6 separate regions of the Homo sapiens genome follow, and all the other regions are reported to be linked to region 4. The links are microRNA targets in miRTarBase. Many come from high-throughput screens and were not tested one by one. Region 4 holds a microRNA gene; each other region holds the end of a gene's coding sequence.

What was found. The annotated mature microRNA hsa-miR-3611 reads UUGUGAAGAAAGAAAUUCUUA and lies in region 4 at 2,203-2,223, shown strand. An mRNA with a match to its seed (bases 2 to 7 or 8) in the 3' UTR can be bound and repressed. Matches are read on the target gene's strand: a 7mer-m8 pairs with bases 2 to 8, a 7mer-A1 pairs with bases 2 to 7 and ends in A, and an 8mer does both.
Region 1: miRTarBase lists STOX2 as a target of hsa-miR-3611. Seed matches in the 3' UTR shown: 7mer-A1 at 1,344-1,350.
Region 2: the mRNA of PPP2R5C is a reported target of hsa-miR-3611. Seed matches in the 3' UTR shown: 7mer-A1 at 989-995 and 7mer-m8 at 1,870-1,876.
Region 3: miRTarBase lists TFDP1 as a target of hsa-miR-3611. Seed matches in the 3' UTR shown: 7mer-A1 at 1,826-1,832.
Region 5: miRTarBase lists SLFN11 as a target of hsa-miR-3611. Seed matches in the 3' UTR shown: 7mer-A1 at 3,683-3,689.
Region 6: miRTarBase lists RBM12B as a target of hsa-miR-3611. Seed matches in the 3' UTR shown: 7mer-A1 at 2,411-2,417.

What each region holds. Positions count from the first base shown.
Region 1 is chr4:184,016,867-184,020,943 of GRCh38, reverse strand. STOX2 (storkhead box 2) reads right to left here. Exons shown (of 4, transcript NM_020225.3): 4 at 1-3,855. The coding sequence ends at 3,660. Among named protein-coding and RNA genes, the nearest start is that of STOX2, 110 kb to the right of the region's middle. RefSeq lists an enhancer at 3,257-3,756.
Region 2 is chr14:101,924,547-101,928,637 of GRCh38, forward strand. It overlaps PPP2R5C (protein phosphatase 2 regulatory subunit B'gamma), which reads left to right. Exons shown (of 16, transcript NM_001352913.2): 16 at 595-3,431. The coding sequence ends at 726. Among named protein-coding and RNA genes, the nearest start is that of DYNC1H1, 38 kb to the right of the region's middle. RefSeq lists enhancers at 3,543-4,043, 4,044-4,091.
Region 3 is chr13:113,639,462-113,643,552 of GRCh38, forward strand. It overlaps TFDP1 (transcription factor Dp-1), which reads left to right. Exons shown (of 12, transcript NM_007111.5): 12 at 659-2,012. The coding sequence ends at 806. Among named protein-coding and RNA genes, the nearest start is that of ATP4B, 17 kb to the right of the region's middle.
Region 4 is chr10:35,077,750-35,081,831 of GRCh38, reverse strand. MIR3611 (microRNA 3611) reads left to right here and starts at 2,152; the gene lies at 2,152-2,234. All of the region lies in intron 1 of CUL2 (cullin 2), which reads left to right.
Region 5 is chr17:35,348,591-35,352,681 of GRCh38, forward strand. It overlaps SLFN11 (schlafen family member 11), which reads right to left. Exons shown (of 7, transcript NM_001376007.1): 7 at 1,715-4,091. The coding sequence ends at 3,766. Among named protein-coding and RNA genes, the nearest start is that of SLFN11, 23 kb to the right of the region's middle.
Region 6 is chr8:93,729,772-93,733,862 of GRCh38, forward strand. It overlaps RBM12B (RNA binding motif protein 12B), which reads right to left. Exons shown (of 4, transcript NM_001377960.1): 4 at 1-4,091. The coding sequence ends at 3,634. It overlaps CIBAR1 (CBY1 interacting BAR domain containing 1), which reads left to right. Exons shown (of 9, transcript NM_145269.5): 9 at 1-1,756. Among named protein-coding and RNA genes, the nearest start is that of RBM12B-AS1, 8.3 kb to the right of the region's middle.

The DNA of each region.
Region 1 (4,077 bases), not on the chromosome of region 4:
CTTCCACTGAACAGGTTTCTTCTCCCCATGGTGACTGCAATGTAATTTAAATTTACATTTTAGATGCTGGTTGGGCTATGAAAAAGAGGGACCTGGGAACAGCTGGTGTTCAGATCATTGTTACTCCGGATTAACTGTGAATTGATGCTTCCTGAACCTGACCTTCACAACATCAGAGAAGAAGTAATTTGTTATTTTTATCCAGCTAGTCTCCATTCACCTCTTCTATTTGTTTTCTCTATTTGATGGCACCCCCCCCCCTTTCATATGTTCATTATGGTCCCCTGAGATGTGCAAAATATATATAATGGAATACAAATTATTTAACAGAAGTTGTGGAATTCACAGCACAGCTCTTTTAATTAAAGTGGAGTTTGGGCTCGACATGGTAGCATGCGAGTGAAGGCAGAGCCCGAAGTGCTTCAAGCTTGGCAGTCCACATTGCTTGTGTGTCTTCTGTTACTGAAAACTTAGACTTCAAATCAGATTTCCAAAAGAGTAAATAGCTCTTTCAATTACGTTCACCCATTGGCTCTTCGCCAGAGAACTTTTAACAGGAATGGGTGGAGGGCGGGGGTGGGCACAAGAATTTTTAAACTTCCGTTCATTCCTAACAAAATCGAGTGCGCTTTCGTGGGGAAGAGAGGAGAAGACAGGATTACATCTGAAAGCCAAACAGCGGCGTAAGAGAAAGCCATGGCGATGGAAAGTCATGAGTCCACAGAGGCAATCACTGACACACACAGCACGCCATGCCCTAATGTTGAAGGAAGTGTTCAACTTTGCTCTTCTGAACGATACACTTTAACACACGGCTGCCATTTCATCAAATTTATGGAGGTAGTTATATGTAAAAATAAAAATTACCATAAAGTAATATGTTGTATCATAATAATACATAAGTGTGCAAAATGCCGACAGATGTGTTGACCCTTTCACAGAGATTCAACCAGATTCAGTTTTGTAAACCTTTCAGCTGCTAAACCCTAAGACTGGATAAGCAGTCGTGTAACACAAAGCTATGATTTTACAGGAGGAAAGGGATACTGGCAACGCCTGGCGAGGCCCCCACTGTTCCGGGACCGAGAGCCTCACCGTGACCTCGAATGACATTTGCAATGTGCTGCCGGCTGCCACTCCTCCCCCATTCAAGAATCTCGATCAGATTCAGGCAGGAATATTTTTATATGCAACATCTGCTTACATGGTATCACCTTTAAAGTCCATCATTTCTACACTAATGGCTGCTGGTCTAAGGGAGTTTTTAAAAAATTATGTACCCCATAGCATCAGGCAAATAGTGTACATATTTATTTGAATAATGTCTTCTGTAAACCTATATCTTGTGAAATATCAATAAATTCCTATTTTAAAGCTTCTCTTAAAGGTAACGCTTTCCTTTCCTGTTCACACAGTATTCGATTATTTCAATGGCTACTTTCAGAGGATCAGCTAGAGGCTGATGTGTTGTTTCAATGGTTATATTATTTATGAACTGAGAGTAGAAGAAAAATTTGAGAGCAGGTTTTTGGAAAAAATGAATTTAGACAAATATTTAGTAACTGTATGATATATAACTCCCCAAGGGAACCAACTATGTAGTCTATTAGATACATGATCATTCCTTCTGGACATATTTAAGCAATGAGACAAACAATGCGTTGAGGCATGCCTTGGAGGAAATAAGGCATGAGACTGAAAGCCAACTGGCTTAAGCATTTCAATGGTATGGGAGTTTACTAAGAAACATGCTGAAGTTTCACTATAATAAGCAGAAAAAAGGAATTTACACCAAACTCAAGGAGTTCAGTTTGACCCAATGCAACTTCCAAATAACTGAAAAACTATGAGGGAGCATTTAAAGGTTTCAAGAATGAGTCCAACTGTGTATAGGACTGGATTCTTTAAACAGATTGCTAGTGATTAAACCTCATACAAAAACAGATGCGTCTCACAAATCATATGCCAATTACTGAAATTGGAGGTGAAAATATTCTAGATTTATTTTGGGATATATATATTTTATGGTGTATGGCTCCCAACAGCACATGCCACTGAACTAAATAAAACTTTATGTCAGAACACTTACTTGTGTCATATGTAACCCTTTTGCAAATAATATTCCATTACTACAGATCTGTCCCACTGTTCTCAGAAAATAAAACATGGGAACGTTGGAATGTCTCCTTGCTATAAGATGAAATTATTGGTCATCCCTTTGCTGCTGGGTCTTCTTTGTGTTCAACATGACATTGTAAACCAAAGCAAAATGTTAACAAACCATTTGGAAATAAGTTGGTCTAATTAACTACACATCCAGCTAAAAACGCCTCCTGAAATTGGTTACAAAGTATCTGTAAACATTACTCTGGCATAGTTCATGTATGCATAATTGTTATTCTGATAAATTTTAGGGGAGTACAAATTCGGATTATACCGCACTAGCAGAATGAGCACATTCTGTTGTTTATTACATGGGCACATGTATATTTCTAATCAAAAATTATTTTAAAAGTTTTCTCTATACATATCTTCCCAGGAATAAAAGGCCTGAAGTTCAACACTCCCTAAATTTGCTCTTTCCTACAACCACTAAAAATTATCTCCCACAGCCTAATTTAGGCATTCTATTTAAAACTACATAAAATAGATTTATGTCCTTCCATTAGAAAGAATAACATCCTCAGGCCCTACTCTTCATTTGTATCACAAAGAACATTTTGCTTTTAAACAAACTAATTATTGTATCTATTAGAGTAAGATAGGGTCATCCTAAGTATCACAAGGAGGAAATTCTCTTCCTTCAATATTTGAGTAACACCTTTTACAAGTCCACATCACCTTTTCAATCACCTAATGCTGTGCCCCAGCCAGACTGGAAATTGCTTTCCTTTGTCCACTTCAGATTCAAAGGCCTATATTCCTGTTTGTGATCACGGAAGGTTAAAAAAATCAGACAAGCATCTGTGACACTTCAAAACAAAACCCTGAAAACATTCACTCCCAGTGATCTCCATTGCGACCCCTTCTCACACACTTCCATGGGCTCCTGCAAAATAGTGTCACGAAAACTCACAGTGAAAAATGACTGGTGCATAAACAATTCACACACAAAGGGCCGGGGTCCCTTCTAGTTAGTTTGGCATCTATTTCCCTCAAGGTGGACCCTTGCATTTGACATTTCGTGGTAGCTTAGTTTTGTTTTTTGTTTTTTTTTTTTAAATTTTTTTTGTTTTGTTTTGTTTTTTTTTTTTTGGAAGTGTCAAGGATCAGTTCTGTGGCACCGTTTAACCACAGACTGGGAGCAACACGCATCTGTGGCATTTTAAAATGGAATTGGCAACTGCATGACATTGAAAATGCGTATTACACTTACAGTGTCTAGACTTTCCTATGTGTGCTCAGATACAATTAGTGAAGCAAAAGTATACATATCACCCCTACTGTTACTCAGTTGCTACAGAGCCATAAATGTGAAAAGCAATACTCTGAAATAAAGATTTTTTGTTTTTTTGCCCTAGCCCTACTTAGCAGCACAGTTTAAGTAAACACAAAAACTGTGGTTGAGATGCTTGTCTTTCCAAAGATGTAAACATCAGTCCCAGTGTCGTAAACTTTGCTGTATCGAATGAGACAGAAGATCTGAGGCAGAAGGACAATCACACGCTAGTAACAGAAGCTTGCAAGCAGTTGGAAGGTTTCTGTAGCTTCTCAGCTTCATTTGTCGGGGGCTCCGCGCTCGCTCGGAAGTTGAAGGCTGGACCAGCTCCACCATGGGCCGGGCTCAAAGCGGGGTTCTGACGACGGTTACTTTCAACAATGCTTGATGTGTTGGAAGCCAGGCTCTCCCGAGTACTAAAAGAGCAAAAAGGGTTTGTTTTGTTTTGTTTGGAACATAAATAATTATAAATTGAGCCCCAGAGGAAGAGCAAATGATGTCGTTAATGGATTTCCTCTGTTGGTTCATAATGTCATATCAATATACATCTCGACTGATTATTCACATCTGCCTCTCCACCACTGGCTCCAGAAGCTTCCACAGACATGTAATAATCAGCAGCACACTCAGTGAATAAA
Region 2 (4,091 bases), not on the chromosome of region 4:
ATTCTCCTGCCCCAGCCTTTCAAGTAGCTGGGATTACAGGCGCGCGCCACTACACCCATCTGATTTTTGTATTTTTAGTAGAGACGGGGTTTCACTATGTTGGTCAGGCTGATCTTGACCTCTTGACCTCGTGATCCGTCCGCCTCGGCCTCCCAAAGTGCTGGGATTACAGGCATGAGCCACCGCACCCAGCCAGAAATTTCTGCTTCTTGAAATGCTTCTGTAGGGGACATGCCCATGAAATGGCTTTAATGACATTTATGAAATAGGAGGTTACTTAGGAAATTTACTAAAATGCATGAATTCTGCAAATTAGAGGTACTGAGTCCTTTGTACAAGCACTGCACATTTCAGAAGACCAGAATGCCAGTATTGAACACACAGGTCCTCAAACGAGTCACGATTTTTAGTAGCAAGACATTTTTGGCAAATTTCCATGATAAGACCTACGCCGTTTCCCTGTGGCCAGGGTGCCGCCAGCGAGTGGGTGAGGCACACGTGCCTCGCGGTTATCCTTTGACTTCCACCTCAGAAGTAAGCTTGCTTTTCAGATAGCTTAGTTTGTAGCCAACGCCATTGCATTTCTAATTCCAGGCACAGAAAGATCCGAAGAAGGACCGTCCTCTTGCACGCCGCAAGTCCGAGCTGCCTCAGGACCCCCACACCAAGAAAGCCTTGGAAGCTCACTGCAGGGCCGATGAGCTGGCCTCCCAGGACGGCCGCTAGCCTCCGGGGCGCCGCGTCGGGGCCGGGCCCGCCAGTTCTTTTCCGGATTCTGTAGAAAATACATACTTCCTGTGCCATACCAATCAGTTACACTCAAAGCTTTCTTGGACCCCGTTCCGTAGGCAATAACGTGCGTCCGCCTCAGCGCGAGATTAGGAGTTCAAACAATGGTGACTTCCCAGAGCCCGCTGGCAGAGCCGCGGGTTGACGACGGTGTCCTCGCAGTGTCGCCGCCACCCCAGCGTAGTCCAAGTCAGACTATTTCACAAAGTCAGAGCGATAGGAAAGCACCCTGCCCTTCATCTTCATGTTCTCCCAAATGGAACTTAGGATCTTTTAACATAGGTGGTTCTGTGATAACATCAGTGTTTTCCAAATCAAAGGAACGCTTTAAAAAATAGGACCTATTTTTTAAGACTTTACAGCCTTTGAAATGGTTTCCACGTGATTGTTACGCCAGCAGTTCTCGTTTTGTTTGTTTTTCAATCTCAGTGAAATGGCTCTTTGCTTTCGAGTTCTCACGCAACGTACTGGGCAAATGACAATCCTCAGCCGCTGGTATTTTCTAAGGGGTCTCTTCACTTTGATGAGTGACATGAACACCGTGTCTCCTTCTCTTGTGTGTACCTAAAGCCATATTTCCAAGTCTGTGGTACTCCAGGATTCCAGGAGTAAGCCTGTAGAAGAGATTTATTTTAAAAGAGATTGCTCTGAAATTTATCTTAAAAGAGCTTGCTCTGTCTACCTTGACAGAAATTGGAGTTTTAAAATTATGTGTTAATATTTTTATTTGCAGATTTCGTTTCCGTCAACTTAAACATTGTTGCCCTTCAACAAGGCTCTTGAATTAATAAAATTATAGTCTCTAAGAATTCCACATTTTATGGAAAGTTAGAGCAAAATCATTTTGAGTTAAGCCAGTTCTTAGCCTAATGCAAACTGCAGCGCCTTTAAGCATAAAGTAACACAACAGCATTGCACGGGGCCGGCACTGCCGCTGCCTTCACTGAAGGCTGCAGTGCTGTTCTGAGAGCTTGGAGGAGGCACCAGCGAGGATGACGTTTAGTGGAGCTCTTTCTGTTGAAAAGAGCTCACGTTATCAACACCTTGTAAGGAAAATACAGTGTCTGAGTTTTCATCGGTCTTCACATGCTGCTATATATTCCACAGAGTTCCTTGCATGTACTGAGCTTTTGTTTTAGATGGAATAGCACAAGGAGAAAAATCTTTAAACTTAGTGCTTTGTCTATTCTTTATTTCTCTCAGGGTGGCCAGTATTTTGACTTATTTATCCTGCTTGAAAGCTACTTGAGATGTGTACTGCTATTCTAAACACGTGATCTAGTTTCTTTCATCTCTGGCATAAGATTATATAACTTAATGTTAAGTGTCTTGAGGCATAAAAGACAAAATGTGGCTTATTTTAGGATCTGTTTTTTCATCGAGGTCTCGGGTATCCTTTCAAAGATAGTGAGAAGCAGACACTGCTCCTTGTGCAGCTCTGGTACCTCCTGCCCACTGCTGTCACTTCAAGCCACTGGCAATGCTTCTGTCCTCGTGTCTTGGAGGAAAATCACCTGGGGGGAGGGGACTTCTTGTGGTAAGAGCAAGTGCAGGTATGAAATGCGAAGATTGCCCCAGCTAAAAGTGGACAAGTCCGCTTTGTGAGATGAATACTTCCTGAGAAACTTGACAAGTATCTCTCCATTTTACCATTATGAAAACTATCATTAAAAAAAACAGTTTAGATGCCTTCTCCTTTTGAGGGAAAAAGGGTGCTTTTTATTGTATAAAGCAGCGTCTTATGTATTTTGATATACCATTGTTTGAACTTCCGTCTTTAGCTGATAGATTCTCAAATATCCTTGATTTTGGATGTTCAGTATGTTTGTGAGAGAGGTTTCTGGGAAGACTCTCTTTTTGCCCTCGGGAAAAAGCAAAATATCAATGTTTGGGTGACTGTGTAAAGCTCAGTGTGTAAGAACATCTTTTTGTCTAGGTTTTCTTTCTGCTCTTTATTGAAGACAAACACTCACCAAAAAGAAAAATAAAAGTTTTCAGAGAAACTAATTTTCTTTGGCAAGAGTATTACTTAATATTTTGGCCTCCTAAAGTTTCCCTAGTTAGTACTCGGACTCCTGTGCTAATTGTCAGCTTACATATCATTGTATAGAGACTGTTTATTCTGTACCAAACTGATTTCAAAAGTACTACATTGAAAATAAACCGGTGACTGTTTTTCTTCATAAAGTTCTGCGTTTGGCATCTTCACTCTTTCCAAAATGTATCTGTACATCAGAAATGTCACTATTCCAAGTGTCTTTTTAGTGTGGCTTTAGTATGGCTTCCTTTTAATATTGTACATACATTGTATCTTTGTTTTATGGTAATAAGTAATAAAAATGTAGACTTCATATTTTGTACAAAATGTCCTATGTACAGAATAAAAAAGTTCATAGAAACAGCAAATATAGGTAAGTGGCACAATTATTTTTCTTTAGAAAATATCTGTAACTTTATGCATTAGTGAAATGTTAAGTACCGACATATTTTTTAACATTTTGTAATTCAAAACTTTTTGTTTTGACATTGTTTATGAAGAGAAACTTCATACACTTGCCATTTAATATGCTCTTTTATCTAATTTTCAAAAACTCTAAAAAACGGTGTATCATATGGACTAAATAAAGAACATGTGAATTTTATTGCTCATCATGAAACTAAATTTAGCCATGGTGTTGAGCAAGCTGGCTCTGACGTTATCGGGTTCCCGTTAGGTCAGGGCCGCCCACACACAGGGACGCTGACTGCAGAGGGGCTGGCCATCTCCATCCAGCCCGCCTGGAGCGCTGGCTGCGCCAGATGCTAGCCACAGCTGTTCAAAGCTAAGTCTATCCACTGATTTTTTTACTTACTTAGTGGAAAAGGCAGTGTGACTTTTTATAGACCGCCTCTTGGTTTGGTTTGGGTTTTGGGGCTTTTTTTGAGTAAGAAAAGGTGAATCAATACAATTTATAGAAATGAAAGTCTTGAAAATAGGGAATTGCTGAAAGTATGAATTTAGGATCCTAGTTCGCCCACCTCCTCCTCAGTGGAGAGATCATTATCCTCGCTGATGCTCTTGCGAGAAGCCCATGGAAACAGGACTAAAGTGTTATCTGCTCGTGTCGTGGTTATAACCTCACCTCTCCATAGCTGCGTGTGGTCAGCACGCCGGCTGGCGTGGGAGGGCAAGCTCTGTGCTTAGCTTCCTTCTCTACCCAGTGGCGTCTGTGCTCCCTTCGCACTGACAGAGGTGCAGACGCCGTCACTCTGCAGCTGGGGGCACGTGGACGAGGCTGAGACCCAGGCAGAGTGTGGCCTTC
Region 3 (4,091 bases), not on the chromosome of region 4:
GCTGAATTTCTCGCCATTTCTGACTTGTTTCCAAGATACAGAATTACTTCATCAAAAGGCACATTAACACATTTTTATTGTAGTGTTAATAAATACCATTAAAATGTATTAAAATATGTACATATGGTTTTATGTTAATTGAAAACATCTTTAAACATTAGGAACGTAGTGAGCTCTGGTTGGTGGTAGGTTTTTGTGGTGCTGCCAGCCCTCTGGGTTCTCAGTCCCCGCTGCCAGATTCGACCCACGCTCTGGACTCCATCCTGTCCTGCCCCGGGCTCTCTTTTTTCCTGTTGCTGGTTATGAGTGAAAGTCCCGGAGGGAGGGATCTAATGGTTTTACAGTTTGTTCCCTCTGGGGCACTGCTCCTGATGGAATGATGAGTGAGGGAGAGGCAGCGTGTGGCTCTGCTCAGCCTCCTGTTTCTGTCGTTATGGGTTCCAGGAGACAGGGCCAGAAGAGAACCAGACAGAGATGGAGTAAGTGCCAGAGCGTTGGCGTGCTGTAGTGCAGACACTCAGCCTCCCCGTTCTGTTTGTGTGACTGACAAAACCCACACCTGTGGGGCACAGCCTGTCATTTGACCACAAGCCCTGAGGCGGGGGGAGGCTGGGTGGGCCGCCTGCACTGACGGCGCCATCCGCCTCCTGCCTTGCAGTGACCTGACCAACGGTGCAGATGGGATGCTGGCCACAAGCTCCAATGGGTCTCAGTACAGCGGCTCCAGGGTGGAGACTCCGGTGTCCTACGTCGGGGAGGACGACGAGGAGGACGATGACTTCAACGAGAATGACGAGGACGACTGACGTCCTCCCCACTTCAGATTCGGCTTCAGGAAAACGTTTAGCGAAAAGAAACTTTTTTTTTAATGTGGGTTTTCTGTTTCCTTTTGGCCTACTCCCAAGAAGATATTGGTAAGCTATTGAATTTAGATATGCACCTCTGATAAGCAAGGATTGTTTCCCGTAGGATTAGGACGTGCTGTGGATGTGTGTTTTGATACCAGTGTGCTGATGCAGAGCGTTTATTTACTTGTTAGGATTTTGTGTTTTCATTTGCTATTTTTCTTTAAGTGCAGAGTTCATTTTTGCCCCTGAAAAGTTTTTGCTGAGTTTGCTGAAGAAATTGTATTTCAACCACATCCATGAAAATAAAACACCTCCTGTTGTGGATGGTGAGCCCCTGATGCCGCTTATTTGCCGTGAGTTTGGACGGCACCCCTGCTGGCGGATAGCAAGACTCTGTGGAGTTTGTTCAGTGGTACGGTGTCCAAGCAAACAGCAGAATGCAACTTTCTAAACAGCCCCAAGCAAACAGCAGAATTCAACTTTTTAAACAATAAACACCATCAACCTTATTGACTTTATTGTCCCTTAAATTATATTGACTGTTGTGATTCCATCAAGTTTGTACACTCTTTTCTCTCCCTGTTTTGCAGCAACAAATTGCGAAGTGCTTTTGTTTGTTTGTTTTCGTTTGGTTAAAGCTTATTGCCATGCTGGTGCGGCTATGGAGACTGTCTGGAAGGCTTGGAATGGTTTATTGCTTATGGTAAAATTTGCCTGATTTCTTACAGGCAGCGTTTGGAAACCTTTTATTATATAGTTGTTTACATACTTATAAGTCTATCATTTAAAGACATGTACTGAAACAAATGTATTTGTTTCATAAGCATCTTCCTGTAATCTATTATAAAATTGAAATTAAATATAGAGAATGTTTTAACAATTTTTTAACTCAAAATTTGTCAATCATTTTTAATAGTTCTTTTTTTATAAAAAGAAAAAGGAATTTAAGGACAGGCAGTAGTCTCTTTTAAAATTTATTCACAAAACCCATTAACTGCACAGTTGCTATTAGCTGCCTGTTCTAAAACGATAGTCTTTTTATTGAAACACAAATAAACTTTTCTGTAATATTTTATGGTATATAAAGAGACTTTAATTGTTTGACTTGTTTAACTTGGCACTGTTAGTTTTTATTAATAAAACGCGCATGGGCATTTTAAACAAGCTGTGTTTCTCTAATTCAGGATTATTATCTAGAAATTTGTCTGTCTTGTTGGTTTTACTTTATACTTGAGTGAGAAAGTAGGTTGTTAGGCCCAGACGCGGTGGGCCCGGGTGGTCCCTGTGGGTGCAAACCCCACCACCACATGTTGTCTGAGGCACATCCTCCGGGAGCCCACCCTGAAAAGGTGGAAGGTGGCCAAGGGTGGAGGTCTTGGTGGACACAGGGCAAAGAGGCACCTTCCTTTTCGGTGCCTGTGGTGCAGAGAAAGATAAGCCAAGTTCCTTGGCCTTTTTTCACAATGAAAATTGAGACAAAATTTAAAAGTTTGACTTTGAGAACAAGAATAAGATTGAGAGGATTCTGGGAAGATGGTGGAATAGGGAGCACCAGGAATCTGGCTGCCCAGGTAGATGTCTACCTCGCGGGCAGGATCTGCCTGATGCAGCTGTTCTGTAACTACGGAATCTACTGAAGGCTTAAAGCTTTCAAGGGAGGCTTGGTCAGCACATTGCAGTTAATTTTGGTCCATTTCAGCTTTCTACCCCGACCTCTGTTCCTTCATTTTTCTCTTTCCCCTTTTGGGAGCCAGACATTGAAGACTAGGACGTATAAAAACAACTGTGTTGTATATATGGGGCTGCCCAGGGAGAGGCTCAGAAAAGACCCGAGAAGACCTTACGTTTACACCTCAGGCTGAACCATGGCACAGGTACAGCCTAGAGCTGTCAAAAAAGCAATAAACACAGCAATAACAAAAATGGCAAATCCGGGGGAACAGGAGACTTCTTTTCAGAGTTGTACCACAGTAATAGATTCAGATGTCCAGTTTTCAACAAACAGTGACAAGGCATACCAAGAAATGGCAAAGTATGGCCCATTTAAAGGGAAAAAAATAAAAACAAACTGTCCTTGAAAAGGATCTGTTGGCAGGTACACTAGACAAATACTTTTAAATAACTGTGTTAAAGATGCTCACGGAAGCCAAAGAACATGTGCAGAAAGTCAAGAGAATGAAAATAGAACCAAATGCAAGGATCATAATGAGGCAGACAACCTGAAAAACCAACAAGAAATTCTGTAGCTGAAAAGTACAGCAACTGAAATGAAAAATTCATCAGAGTGATTCAAAGGCAGAAGTAGCAAATTTGAAGACAGGACAGTGGAAATAACTGAGTCTGAGGAGCAAAAAGAGAAAAGATTGAAGTGAACAGAGCCTGTGGGCCCTGCAGGACACCATCAGGCTGACCAGTGCACATGTTGTGGGGTCTATGAAGGAGAAGAGAAAGAAAGGGGCAGAGAGAATATTTGAAGATAATAATGGCTGAAAACGCACCAAGTTTAATAAAAGACATGAATATAAACATCCAAGATGCACCATGAACTCCAAGGAAGATAAACTCAGAGATCCACACCGAGACACATTATAATTAAGCTTTCAAAAGACAGAGAAGACCTTGAAAGCAGCAGAGTAGGAGCAATTCATCACATACAAGGGGCCCCCAATAAAATTATCCACAGAGTTTTCCTCAGAAACTGGAGGCCACAAAGTAGTGGGCCAGTATATTCAAACTGCTAAAAGAAAAACAATAAACTACCAAGAATTCTACAACTGACAAAACTGTCCTTCAAAAGTGAGGGCGAAATTAAGACATTCCCAGATAAACAAAAGCTGAGGAAGTGTGCTGCCACTAGACCTGCCCTGCAAGATGTGATCTTATATGCAGGAAATCTGAAAGAATCCACTTAGTTTCAGACACTAGAAAAAAATCTAAACCCATAGCAAGTAGAGGGAAAACAATTTAATAAAAATTAGAGCAGAGCTAAAATCAGAGAACAAAAACAAAGGAGAAAATCAAGAAACCGAAAAGTGTGTTTAGATCAATAAAACCGACAAACCTTTAGTTAGGTATACTAAGAAAGATTGACATTACTAAAATCAGAAATGAAAATGGGGACATTTCTACTGGCTCTACAGAAATAAAAAGGATTATGAGAGAATAATAGGAACAATTGTGTGTCAACATATTTAAAAACCTAGATGAAATGGACAAATTCCTAGAGACAAAACCTACCCAGAT
Region 4 (4,082 bases):
TGCGGTCACATCTTGGGCTCAAGTGATCCTCCCATCCCAGCCTCCCTAGTAGCTGGGACTACAGGTGCATGCCACCACACCTGGCTGATCTGTTTGTATTTTGTACAGGCGGGGTTCACCATGTTGCCCAGGTTGGCTGCGAACTCCTGGGCTCAAGCAGTCTGCCCATCTTGGCCTCGCAAAGTGCTGGGATTGTAGGTATGGGCCACTGCACACAGCCAAAAAATTTGTTCTCAATGTTTTGATAATTTGTGTAAAGGCTGGTTGGTTCTAGCTTTGTCTAGTATTCATACACGATGGGCTTGCCTAGTCATGAAGGACTCAGAAATTCAAATTCTCTAATTTACCTGAGATCGGGGATACATATATGAGAATAGTTTTTTTTAAAAATGTCAGTTTCTTAAATTCGTTGACTAGATTATTGAACAAAAAATGAGAAAGCAAGTGAAAATGGCGTTAAACTTCAAGCTGATAAGAGCGATGTGAAAACTTAAGAAACAAAGTATAGGCTGTGCAGTCTTATGGGAGTCTAAAGTTCATTGCAGAGAGGGGTCTTTTATTCTGGTGCAGTGGGTTTATTTTTGGAAGCAGGTAGCTGCTTTTTTGTGACAAGATCTTGGTCTTTTGGCCCAGGCTGGAGTGTGGTGGTGCCATTGTAGCTTAATGTAACCTTGAAGTCTCCTTTGCTCAAGCCAAGCTCCCACCTTAGCCTCCTGAGTAGCTGGGACTCCCTGCGGGCGCATGTTACCAGAGGGCCCAGCTACTATAATTTTATTTTTTTTTAAAGACCAGGTCTGTCTATGTTGCTAAGGCTGTTTTCAAACTCCCAGGCTCAAGTGATCCTCCCACCTCAGCCTCCCAAAGTACTAGGATTACAGGTGTGAGCCACCACACCTGGGTGCAAATGGCTTCTGTAACTTATTGTATTATGAATACATTCCCTACTCCCCACCGTGTCACCCTTTTTGAGACTTCAAGATGTTTTCCTGCAGTATACATTTTGGCACACACCATATGTCTGTTCACTCTTTTTTCCCCAACTCATTTGTTTTTGTAAAAAACCTACTAGAAATTCTAGGCTGGGTGCGGTGGCACACGCCTGTAATCCTAGTAATTTGGGAGGCCAAGGCTGGTGGAAGCTTGAGCTCAGGAGTTCAAGACCAGCCTGGGCAACATAGTGAAACCCCATCTCTACAAATACAAAAAAGTAGCTCAGTGCAGTGGTGTGTGCCTGTAGTCCCAGCTGCTCAGGAGGCTGAGGCGGGAGGATCACTTGAGCCCAGGAGGTCAAGGCTGCAGTGAACCAGGATCACACCACTGCACTGGGTGACAGAACAAGACCCTGTCTCAAAAATAAATAAATAAATAAATAAATAAATAAATAAATAAATAAATAAAAATAGGAATTCTAAAGCCAGAAAGTCATGATGGAAATGTTGTTTATGGAGTACTTAGAGCTCTGTGGGTCAAACCTTAGTGCAACAAAAAACATTGCACCCTTAACCTCCAAATAAGAAAGGGCATTCTTAGTTACATCCAGTGGCTTGCTCATTTGATACAGCAAGATGAAAATGTTTAGATGCATTCTTGGAGCTTATTTTAATATTAAATGATGGCAACATATTTGGTCATTGTGCACCATTGGCAGCTTTGGGCCCACCTATGGAAATGGAAAATAATGCCAAGTTAATATGGTATTCCACTTCCCTGCCTCCCTTATTCACAGTTTTGTTTTCTGCATTTTAGTTACCCACGGTCAATGGGGTCTGCAAATATTAAATGGAAAATTTCAGAAATAACTCATAATTAAATTCTGTACTGTCCTCAGTAGTGTGATGAAATCTTGCACTGTCCTGCTCAGACGTGAATCATCCCTTTGTCCAGCATCTCTACGCTGTGGATGCCTCCTGCCATTAGTCACTTAGTAGCTGTCTTGATTATCAGATAGACTGTTGCAGTTTTGCAGTATTTGTGTTCAAGTCACCCTGATTTTACTTAGTAAGGGCCCCCAAAGTACAGGAGTAGTGATCCTAGCAATATGGATACACCAGAGAGGCTTCTGCCATAGAGTGCTTCCTTTACACGAAAAGTTGAAAGTTCTCAATGAGGAAAGAAAAAAATAATAGACTGAGATTGCTAAGACCTACTGTAAGCAGGTCTAATAAGAATTTCTTTTTCTTCACAATTATGAAAGAAAAGAAATTGTGAAGAAAGAAATTCTTACTAGTTTTGCTGTCAAATCTCAATCTGTAAAAGTGATAGTTATATCGTGTAATAAGTGCTTAGTTAATTTGGAAAAGGCATTACACTGGTGGGTGGAAGACATGAGCAGAGACAAGTTCCACTTGATGGCAACATACTGTGCCAGAAAGCATTGAGCCTATTTGAAGACTCAGCAAGGGATCCCCAGAGACGAATGACACCAAACCATTTACTCTAAGTCAGGGACTGTAACACATATTCAGGAATACAGAAGGTCAGTAGTAAGTAGCCCAATGCCGACCTTCCGATGCATGTGTCACTCACCTCACTTCATCTCATTACATAGGCATTGTATTGTCTCACACCTTCACAAGAAGGGCGAGTACAGCACAGTGAGATATTCTGAGAGACCATGGTCATGTAACTTTTATTATAGCATATTGTTATAATTGTTATATCTTACTGCTAGTTTTTGTTAATCTCTTACTGTGCTTGATTTATATAATAAACTTTATCATAGGTATGTATGTATATGAAAAAACATAGTTTCGGGCATTCCTGGGGATCTTGAAACGTATCCCCTTGGATAAGGCAGGGGACTGCTGTAAGGCTCTTTATTGGGTCTTCAGTATTTTCTCATTTTATGCATTTGGAAGGAAATCTGCTCTAAGCCTATTGAGTGGCATTTAAAAAACTAATTATGGTGTCTTAACTATCTGAAGTCAACTTAGACCACTCTATTGTATCTTACTGATAATTTTTGGATGCCAAATTTTTATTGGTGCTGCTGATCAGTACTGAAATAAATCGTCATTCAGGAGTTTTGTTCACTATAAAGAGAATCAAAATAGTAAGTGGTTAGCCATTTACATTATTGATAATTATACTTTTAGAAGGTAAGTAAAATACAAAACACCAAAATGCATCTTTTGAGATACTGTAACTTTTACCTGCTGAAATTATCTAAATTGTTTTTTTGCTCCAGCAAGTGAGTTCACAGGAACAAATCTCTTTATATGAAAAATGTCGGGCTGGGTGCAGTAGCTCACGCCTGTAATCCCAGCACTTTGGGAGGTTGAGGCAGGGGGATCACCTGAGGTTGGGAGTTTGAGACCAGCCTGACCAACATGGAGAAACCCCGTCTCTACTAAAAAAAAAAATACAAAATTACACCGGTGTGGTGGCGCAAGCCTGTAATTCCAGCTACTTGGGAGGCTGAGGCAGGAGAATTGCTCACACCTGGGATGTGAAGGTTGTGGTGAGCCGAGATCATGCCATTGCACTCCAGCCTGGGCAACAAGACAGAAACTCCATCTCAAAAAAAAAAAAAAAAATTCACCTGATCTTAACAAACATATATATTTTTTATTTCTGCTATTAGTAATTTAAGTTTTTTAGGGGTGGACATTTTGTCAGGCTATGTTAACACATCACATTTAGGGACAGTACCATGTGTTTTGTGAGCTCTCCTACAACTTTGGAAACCTAAAACTCACAGGAAAGTTAAGATTCTCAGAAGGGAAGGTTAGTAACGGCTTTCAGTTAGAGATGATGTGCTTTCTCCCCTAAATTTATGAAAATATTAATGTTTATGAGGAGTAGGATTTTTAAATTCCTTTATTATGGAAAATTGTAAACACATACAAAAAAAGAATATTGTAATAAATCCCCATGTCCCTTTTATTCATCCTTAACAGTTATCAACTCATGAGCAAGCTGTTTAATTGTGAAGCAGATTTCAGACAGCATATCATTACATCTGTAAATATATATTTTTAATATTATTTTTATTTCTTTTCTTTTTTTTTTTTTGAGACGGAGTTTCACTCTTGTTGCCCAGGCTGGAATGCAATGGCACGATCTCGACTCACCGCAACCCC
Region 5 (4,091 bases), not on the chromosome of region 4:
ATATATAGACATTGGCCCCCTCAAGAAAGTGGAGCTTCAATCCTCACCCTTTGAGTGTGAGCTGCACTTAGCAACATAGGAGGAAGGAAAAGTAACTTCACTGTAGAGAAACCTGGCAAACACTTCCTCTGTCAGCTGGTCAAGGTTGATATCATGAGTGATAAGGCATGTTGATAGCATATACCCTTGATGTGATGTGATGAGAATACCTCTTCATTCCTGTGGTCTTCCTCTTGAAAACCTATAACCCCAGTCTGAGAAAAAAATCAGACAAACCCAAACTGAAGGACATTTTATTTGTAGATACCTGACCAGTACTCCTCAGAACTGTCCAGGTCATCAAAAATAAAGCATCACAGGTCAGAGGAGTGTAAGGAAACATGACCACTAAATGTAGTATGGTGTCCTGGATGGGATCCTGGAGTAGGCAAAGACATTAGAGAAAAACTAGAGAATCCAGGCCGGGTGCAGTGGTTCATGCCTGTAATCCCAGCACTTTGGGAGGCCGAGGAGGGCGGATCACAAGGTCAGGAGATCGAGACCATCCTGGCTAATACGGTGAAACCCGGTCTCTACTAAAAAAATACAAAAAATTAGCCAGGTGTGGTGACGGGCGCCTGTAGTCCCAGCTACTCGGGAGGCTGAGGCAGGAGAATGGCGTGAACCCCGGAGGCAGAGCTTGCAGTGAGCCGAGATCATGCCACTGCACTCCAGCCTGGGCGACAGAGCAAGACTCCGTCTCAAAAAAAAAAAAAAAAAAAAAAAAAAAACTGGAGAATCCAAATAAAATGTGGGGTTTAGTTAATAGTCATGTACTAAGTAAGGTTGGTTCCTTAGTTGTGATGAATGCATCACAACAATACAGTAATAAAACAGGGAAATAGCCACTGCAATGGCTCACACTTGTAATCCCAGCACTGTAGGAAGCCCACGCAGGAGGAATGCTTGAGCCTGGGAGTTTGAGACCAGCCTGGGCAACATAATAAGACCCCGTCCTCTACAAAATTTTTTTAAAAAAATAGCCAGGTGTAGTGGCATGCACCTGCAGTTCCAGCTTCTCAGCTAGTTGGGGTGAGAGGATCACTGGAGTCCAGGAGTTAAAGGCTGCAGTGAGCTGTGATCACCCAACTGTACTCCAACCTGGGTGAGAGAGCAAGACCTTGTCAAAATAAAATAAAATAAAATAAAATAAAATAAAATAAAATAAAATAAAATAAAATAAAGAGGAAACTAAATGAAGGGGACACAGGAACTTTCTGTACTATCTTTGTAACTTTTTCTGTAATTCTATAACTACTCTAAAATAAAAAGTTAATTTAAAATATAAAAACATTTTGTTTCATTTTATAATGGCTGGGTAGATTTTCAGATCTTTAGTGAAGTAGGTCCCAGATGTCTAGAGGCAGATTGCAGAGATGGGCAGGCACCCATCCAAACCCAACTGAGTCTAGTGCACTGGCTCATGCCTATAATCCCAGCAATTTCGGAGGCTGAGGCAGGAGGATCACTTGAGCCCAGGAGTTCGAGGCTATAGTGAGCTATGATTGCACTACTGCATTCCAACCTGGGCAACATAGTGAGATCTTGTCTCTTAAAAAAAAAATTGAAAGTTAATGTTGCTTAATCTTTTACTGGCTCGTTTTGGCCCTCTCACAGAGTCACTGGCCTCAGTCTTCTCCTTTTCCCCCATTTAAGCACTTATTTTACAAGACCATTTTTTTCAGTTTAATGAGACACAAACTCTCAACTTTTTATTTAAAACAGAAATGCAGTAGTAAGCTAAACCTTTTGCCATTCATAGGGAAACAAATATCAGTAATCCTCTTTGTTCTAAACAAAAATTCATAATTATTTATACATTTTAAAATATTATATTGTTTCAAATATTGTTAGTGGGGCAATAAATCATAAAGAGATACAACCAGTCGAAATTAGACTTTTAAAGAATTACTCTCAAAGACATTGCAACAACTCCAAAGTCCAGGGATCTTATAAGACTAATTTATTAGTAACAACATTTACAAAGATAGCTTTTTAATGCTGAGTTGTATCTGATTTAATGCAGTCAGAAAGAAAAAAGAAACATTTATCTCATTTTGCTGATCTGTCAGATTTTGCTTAAGTTAGGAGAGCCTGCAATTTCAAGCCCAGATAACTGGAATTCCATGAATAAACACAGAAAGACAGGAGAAAGGCAAGGAAGTTCAAAAATCACAGTCTGGGGGGAAATCAGTAGAGTAAGATTACCAATAAGTGAAATATTGGTCATATGATTTCTTAGTTTCCATTAGTTATGCAAATATTTTACTGTTAATATTTAGATTAGTGTTTTAGAACGTTTTGTAGAGACTGAAAAGCAAATAAATAATTGCATTAGCATTGTTAAGTATCAGTGTTTTCTGTTTGACAAATAATCGTACAGCTGTGTTCTCAGGCTGCAATAACAAAACACCAGAGACTGAGAAGCTGAAACAACAGAAATTTGTTTCTCACAGTCTGGAGGCTGGAAGTCCAAGACAGAGTCCAAGACTCTCGCCAGCAGCGAGAGTTTGATTGTGAGGCTTCTCCTCTTGGCTTGTAGGTGGCTGCCATCTCTCTGTGTGCTCCCATGCCCTCTTGTTTGCATGCACAGGGAGGGAGGGAACAAGCTCTCTGGGGTCTCTCCCTATAAGGACACCAACCTTAGCAGATCAGAGCCCCACCATGACTTCATGTAACCTTAATTACTTCCTTAGCAGCCCCAGCTCCACAGTGCAGGTTGGGGCTTCAACACGGGAATTTGGGGGTGAAGGGTGGGACACAAACATTCAGTCCATAACAATGGCCCACCAAACCATGAAAGTAAATAGAAAAAAAATCACAGTTCAAGAATAACATAAAACTTAACTAGGTGTGTTATAGAGCAATGCATAGAACTAAGCTGAGAAGTTAAAACATAAACTCATTGATTTTTAAAGACAATCTTTCCCAAGTCTGGTTCACCTTAGGGCTGATACACACCTTCAGAACCAGATTTTGGTCTCTAATATCATCTTCCACTGAAAGCCAGGGCAAACAGGTTTATGTTCATTTCATCTTGGCCTATAATTTCTCCTTAAAGTGACCATTAATATTCACTATCACAATTAAGGCTTGGTCTGGGCCATTCTGAGAACAAGCTCTGGAGACCACAATTTTAAAGGATTAAATAATCATAACGGTATTCTTTGTCCTGACAAAATTATTAATCTGACAGTGACTGAATTATCTTCGGACTCTCCCAAGCCCTAAATGAATACAGCAAAGATAAATGTCAAGAATTCAGGAAACAATTGCTTCTGCTACGGCCAGTAAGCTCCTAACAGACCATGCTTCTGCAGAAAACGATTCTGGACAAATTTTTAAAAGCAACAAACTGCATGAAGTCACTTAAAAAAAGAAGCCCAGCCTTGGAAGAAAGAAAGGCCACAGGCTGAGTTTCTTATTTTTATGGCTTTTACCCAAAATGCAAGACACAGATCGGCATTGTGCAGGACAGCTAAAGTTCCTTTAGAAAACCACCATCTTTCTGGCTGGAAGAGTCAGGGGTCAGAATGGGGGGCAGCCACCGCTGCTGAAAGGGTTGGGGAAGGAACCCCTGAAAGGAGAGCCAGAAATGGGGGAGCTCCAAACTCTTTGTGTCAGCTCCGTCCAAATCTCTGACTTGTGAACTAAAAAGAAAGGTTTCTACCATCAGCAGACTGTCACCCATAGACATTTACATAGCATTTTGATTTGGAGTTCTTCCTAATGGCCACCCCACGGAAAAATATACAGGTGTTGTTTTGCCCTGGAAGCCAGACAGATCAGAACATTGGGTAAGATAGCTGGGTCAGCTGTCCTTGGATGGATCCCAAACACTATGCTCCTTTCCAGGCCTGAGAATCGCCGAACACTGTCCAACACAATGTGATCACCCAACATATCACATGCATCACTGAGCTGCACCACCCTTTTCTTCCTCATTGCTTTCAAGAGCTCATACTTATAGTGCTCCACTTCTTTTGCGGTGCTGACAAGCACAGCAACATCCTTTGGAGAATAGCCCCTATCAAAGAAGCGCCTGCACGTGT
Region 6 (4,091 bases), not on the chromosome of region 4:
AAGTACACTTAAAAAATGTGAAAAACCATTCCTAGCTTCCACTACAACAACAACAAAAAACAGGCAACCAATCCAACCAACCCAGCCTGTAAGTCTCCATCTCTTATCTCCAAAATAGGAATACAAATTGAGTATCCTTTATCTGAAGTGCTTGGGACCAGAAGTATTTAAGACTTTGGATTTCTTCAGATTTTGGAGTATTTGCATTATACCAGTTCAACATTCCTAACCCAAAAATCTGAAATCTTAAATGCTGCAATGAGCATTTTCTTTGAGCATCATGTTGGCACTCAAAAAGTTTGTGATTTTCGGAGCATGTGAAATTTCAGATTACCAGATTAGGAATACTCAACCTGTAGTACATTTACTAGGATTATCAGAATTAAATGATAGTTAATTCATACATAATTATACATCATATAGTATCTAATACAGCTCAATAAACAACAGCTAATATTTACTGCAAAAACAGAGGCAGCAAGGTCACTACTTAACAGGTGATATATGGATCAAGAATCACTGCTCTTAACAGTGATCTCAGTAAATTAATAGAAATGCACTCCTAACATGATTTTTACCTATCTCTTGGTTGTGGGATTGACTTTCTAGACATGATCTACATTTTTTTAGATAATTTCTAGACAAAAATGTTTGGCTTTAAGACAAATGCCACTGGGTATCAGGCTAGAGAATACACCTCCAGTGTACCTGGTATACCTTGAGGATAGGAGAGGAAAAACTGGCTATGAGACGACAATTACTGAAGCTGAGTGATGTGTACATGAAAATTTACTATTCTTTTTTTATATTTGAAATTGATGAGGTGCTGGGAAGCTGGCTTTCTGAGGGGACAACAGGAGGGGAATTCCTTGATTTGCTGCATTTATCACTTTCCATGGTGTAAAATACTCCTGCCATGGCCAATTTGTTATTGACATATCACTAAAGGCAGAGTTGGAGAGAGATGTGCAAAGATGGCTCCCAACTAGAAGATACCACTTTCTGTAATCAACTTTTTATAATGAAGTTTAAAAATATTAAGCCCTGATACATTATAGGGTAAAAGGAAATATTCATATAAATTAATTTAAAAATCAAAATACAAGGCTGGGCACAGTGGCTCACACCTGTAATCCCAACACATTCTGGGAGACCAAGGAGTGAGGATTGCTTGAGGCCAGAAATTTGAGAACAGCCTGGGCAACACAGTGAGACTCTGTCTCTACAAATAATAAAAAATTTAGCCAGACAAGGTGGCACACACCTGTAGTCCCAGCTCTCAGGAGGCTGAGGCAGGAAGACAGCTTGAGCCCAGGAGTTAGAAGCTGCAGTGAACCATTATCAGACCACTGCACTCCAGCCTGGCCAGCAGAACAAGACTCTGACTCTTAAAATAATAAAACTACAAAGCTTATGTTTACTCTAGCTGGCCTCTTATCTACCACCACCATCCCACCTCAGCCCAGTTTGAAATGCAATTCCACAGTAAGTAATCCCTCACGTTAAGCTTCATCTTAGCTTTATTCCTTTGTATCTGAGAAGCATTTTTTAACTTTCCATATATTATTCAAAATGGGTGACCAAATGAACCATCTATACAATCTTTGCTCAATTAAAAATATCATTTCTACTTTCTTCATTGTGCTTGGTTTGGATATTCCAAACAATCAATTTAACATTATCCTAGCTACTTACAAGCTTATACTTTAAAGAATCATACTGAGGTGCTTTTTCATATCAAATTTACCTGTTTATTCATTCCATAGCAAGCAGGATATTCACTATTTAAAACAAATTTAAGCAGATTTCTGTTAGATTTCTTTAAATCACTGAAAAGTAACACAAAAATACATATAGGTAGTAACTAAGTACTGACAAAGTATTCTACCTATGCAATATCCTATTAAATGTCTAAATTACCATATGTAAATTTAATTGTATTATTTACTCAATGGGGAAAATCTGGATTACAGAACTGAGGAAAATTATGTTTTATGTAAATTATAAAAGGCCAAAGTCAATCATGTTGAATAAAATAATTTTGAAATATAAGCCAGTAATATACCATATGAGTATCCCAAGAGAAACCCTGGATAGAAAGAAACTTTTAAAGTCACTCTTTTTTTTTTTATTAGTAATGTTAATGTTTGAGCTCAGTGTTTGAGCATGCTGGTTTTACCTATTTATGCTAATTTTAAACCAACAATTGAAGTGAGAAAATAATCATTTATCCTTGAAAGTATCTTTAGCATGGTCTTCCTAATTAAAAATACCACTTAAAAAAGTGAGGCAGCAAAAGCATGAACTGGAGTCAGTGGTCTGTCTGGGTTAAAATTGGCCCCACGATTTACTACCTATGACTTCAAGCAAGTTGCTTAACCTCGCACTTCATCCCACTTCATTATCTCATTTGTGAAATAGAGGTAAATAATTAACCCTGTACTCACAGGGAATACCGAGATTATGCATGTAAAGTGCTTACAGTGCCTAGCACATAGTAAGTGCCTAATAAATGTTAGCCATAAATATTATTGTGGGTATAGAAAATCAAATTCCCTAGTTGCAAAATGTATGCACTAAATGCTGAATATCAAAGAAGTCAAAATTCAACCACACAAGTCTTAACAGTTATAGAGTCTTTGCATGGACACAGTTTCGAAGCTAAAAAATGAGAACCTAATATTACATGCAAGTTATGTGACTCATCAGTAAATTCTTCCTAGAAAAACAAACTATACCACTTGTCAGATTCTTCCAGCATAAGCCTGAGTCCCCTTGCACCTATAATTAGATTCTTATTTTACTATCTTTTGCGTATCTTGTATTAATTTTACTTGGTTGATAAGATGTTGAAGAAACCATGGAATTATACACAGCACTATACATTATTACTATAGAATGTCTGGTCCCTCCCATCATAAATATGGTTTAATGAAGTTATTGAAAAACTTCACAATATCGAGCTGCAATTCTTTTTTCTTTTTATACAAATACAAGTTAATTAGCTCTATTAAGTTGCAATTTTATTTTTATAAAGCTTTGTAAAGTTATGAACATGGAAACCCTAAGAATCACCTAAGCTTTTTACATAAGTAAATTTCAAGTTGACAGTCTGTCCATTTTGAACTATTTATAATTAACAGGACACTTAACACAGTAATATCTTAGACAAGGAAGAGGGCATTAATTCTGCAGGCAGGTAGCAATGAAAATGCCAAACCTGAACAATCAGTCACTATTTCCTTATACAGTTTGAGTAAAAGAGGTAGACTACAGAAAGAAAAAAAAAAGTGAATATAAAATGTATCTTCCCCAAATACAACTCTACTTCAATAAGTCTTGAAGATTACCGATGACATCAACAAAAATGAATGAACTCAGGGAATGAGTTCTTTCTCCCCATCAAAGAAAAAAACAGCATGTGTAATTTTAAATTTGAAAAAAAAAAAGAATGGCAATTTGCAAGCAAAAGAAAACCAGATTCACATTCTACTATTTACATTTGTTCTATTCACAGGTCAAAAATAAAATATTTCATTAGATAATTTAAAAAAAAAACACTTTTTTAAAACAAATGTATTTTACTCCATCAATACTGCAAGGAAGATAACTGAATTTAGAAATGCTCTCTCTCTACAGCAAAGTTAACTTAACTTTTCGGGGCCCAACTGGCCTATCATTTAGATCTTTAATAGCAGCCATAGCTTCATTATAGTTTATCATAGCAACAATGGCTTCCCCTGTAGGTAAGCCTTGCTCATTATACTGTATCGAAACTGAATCAGGTATGATTCTGTAACCATGGAAAAAGTCTAAAATTTCATTCACATTAGCTTTAAATGGAAGATTCATTATCTTAATAGGAGTTACTCTACCTGAACCACAATTTATTTTTGGATCAGGCATAAATCTCCCCTCAGGAAAACTTCCCATATTATGCTTTCCAAAATCAAACTTGCCACCTTCTGGGCGACCAAAATTCACAAAAGGGCGGTGACTTCTAAAATCATCAGGCGGGCTCCTAAAATCCTCACCAGGAGGTCTAAAATTGTCAGGAAGTCTAGGGTCCTCCTCCGGAGCTTCCCTAAGGT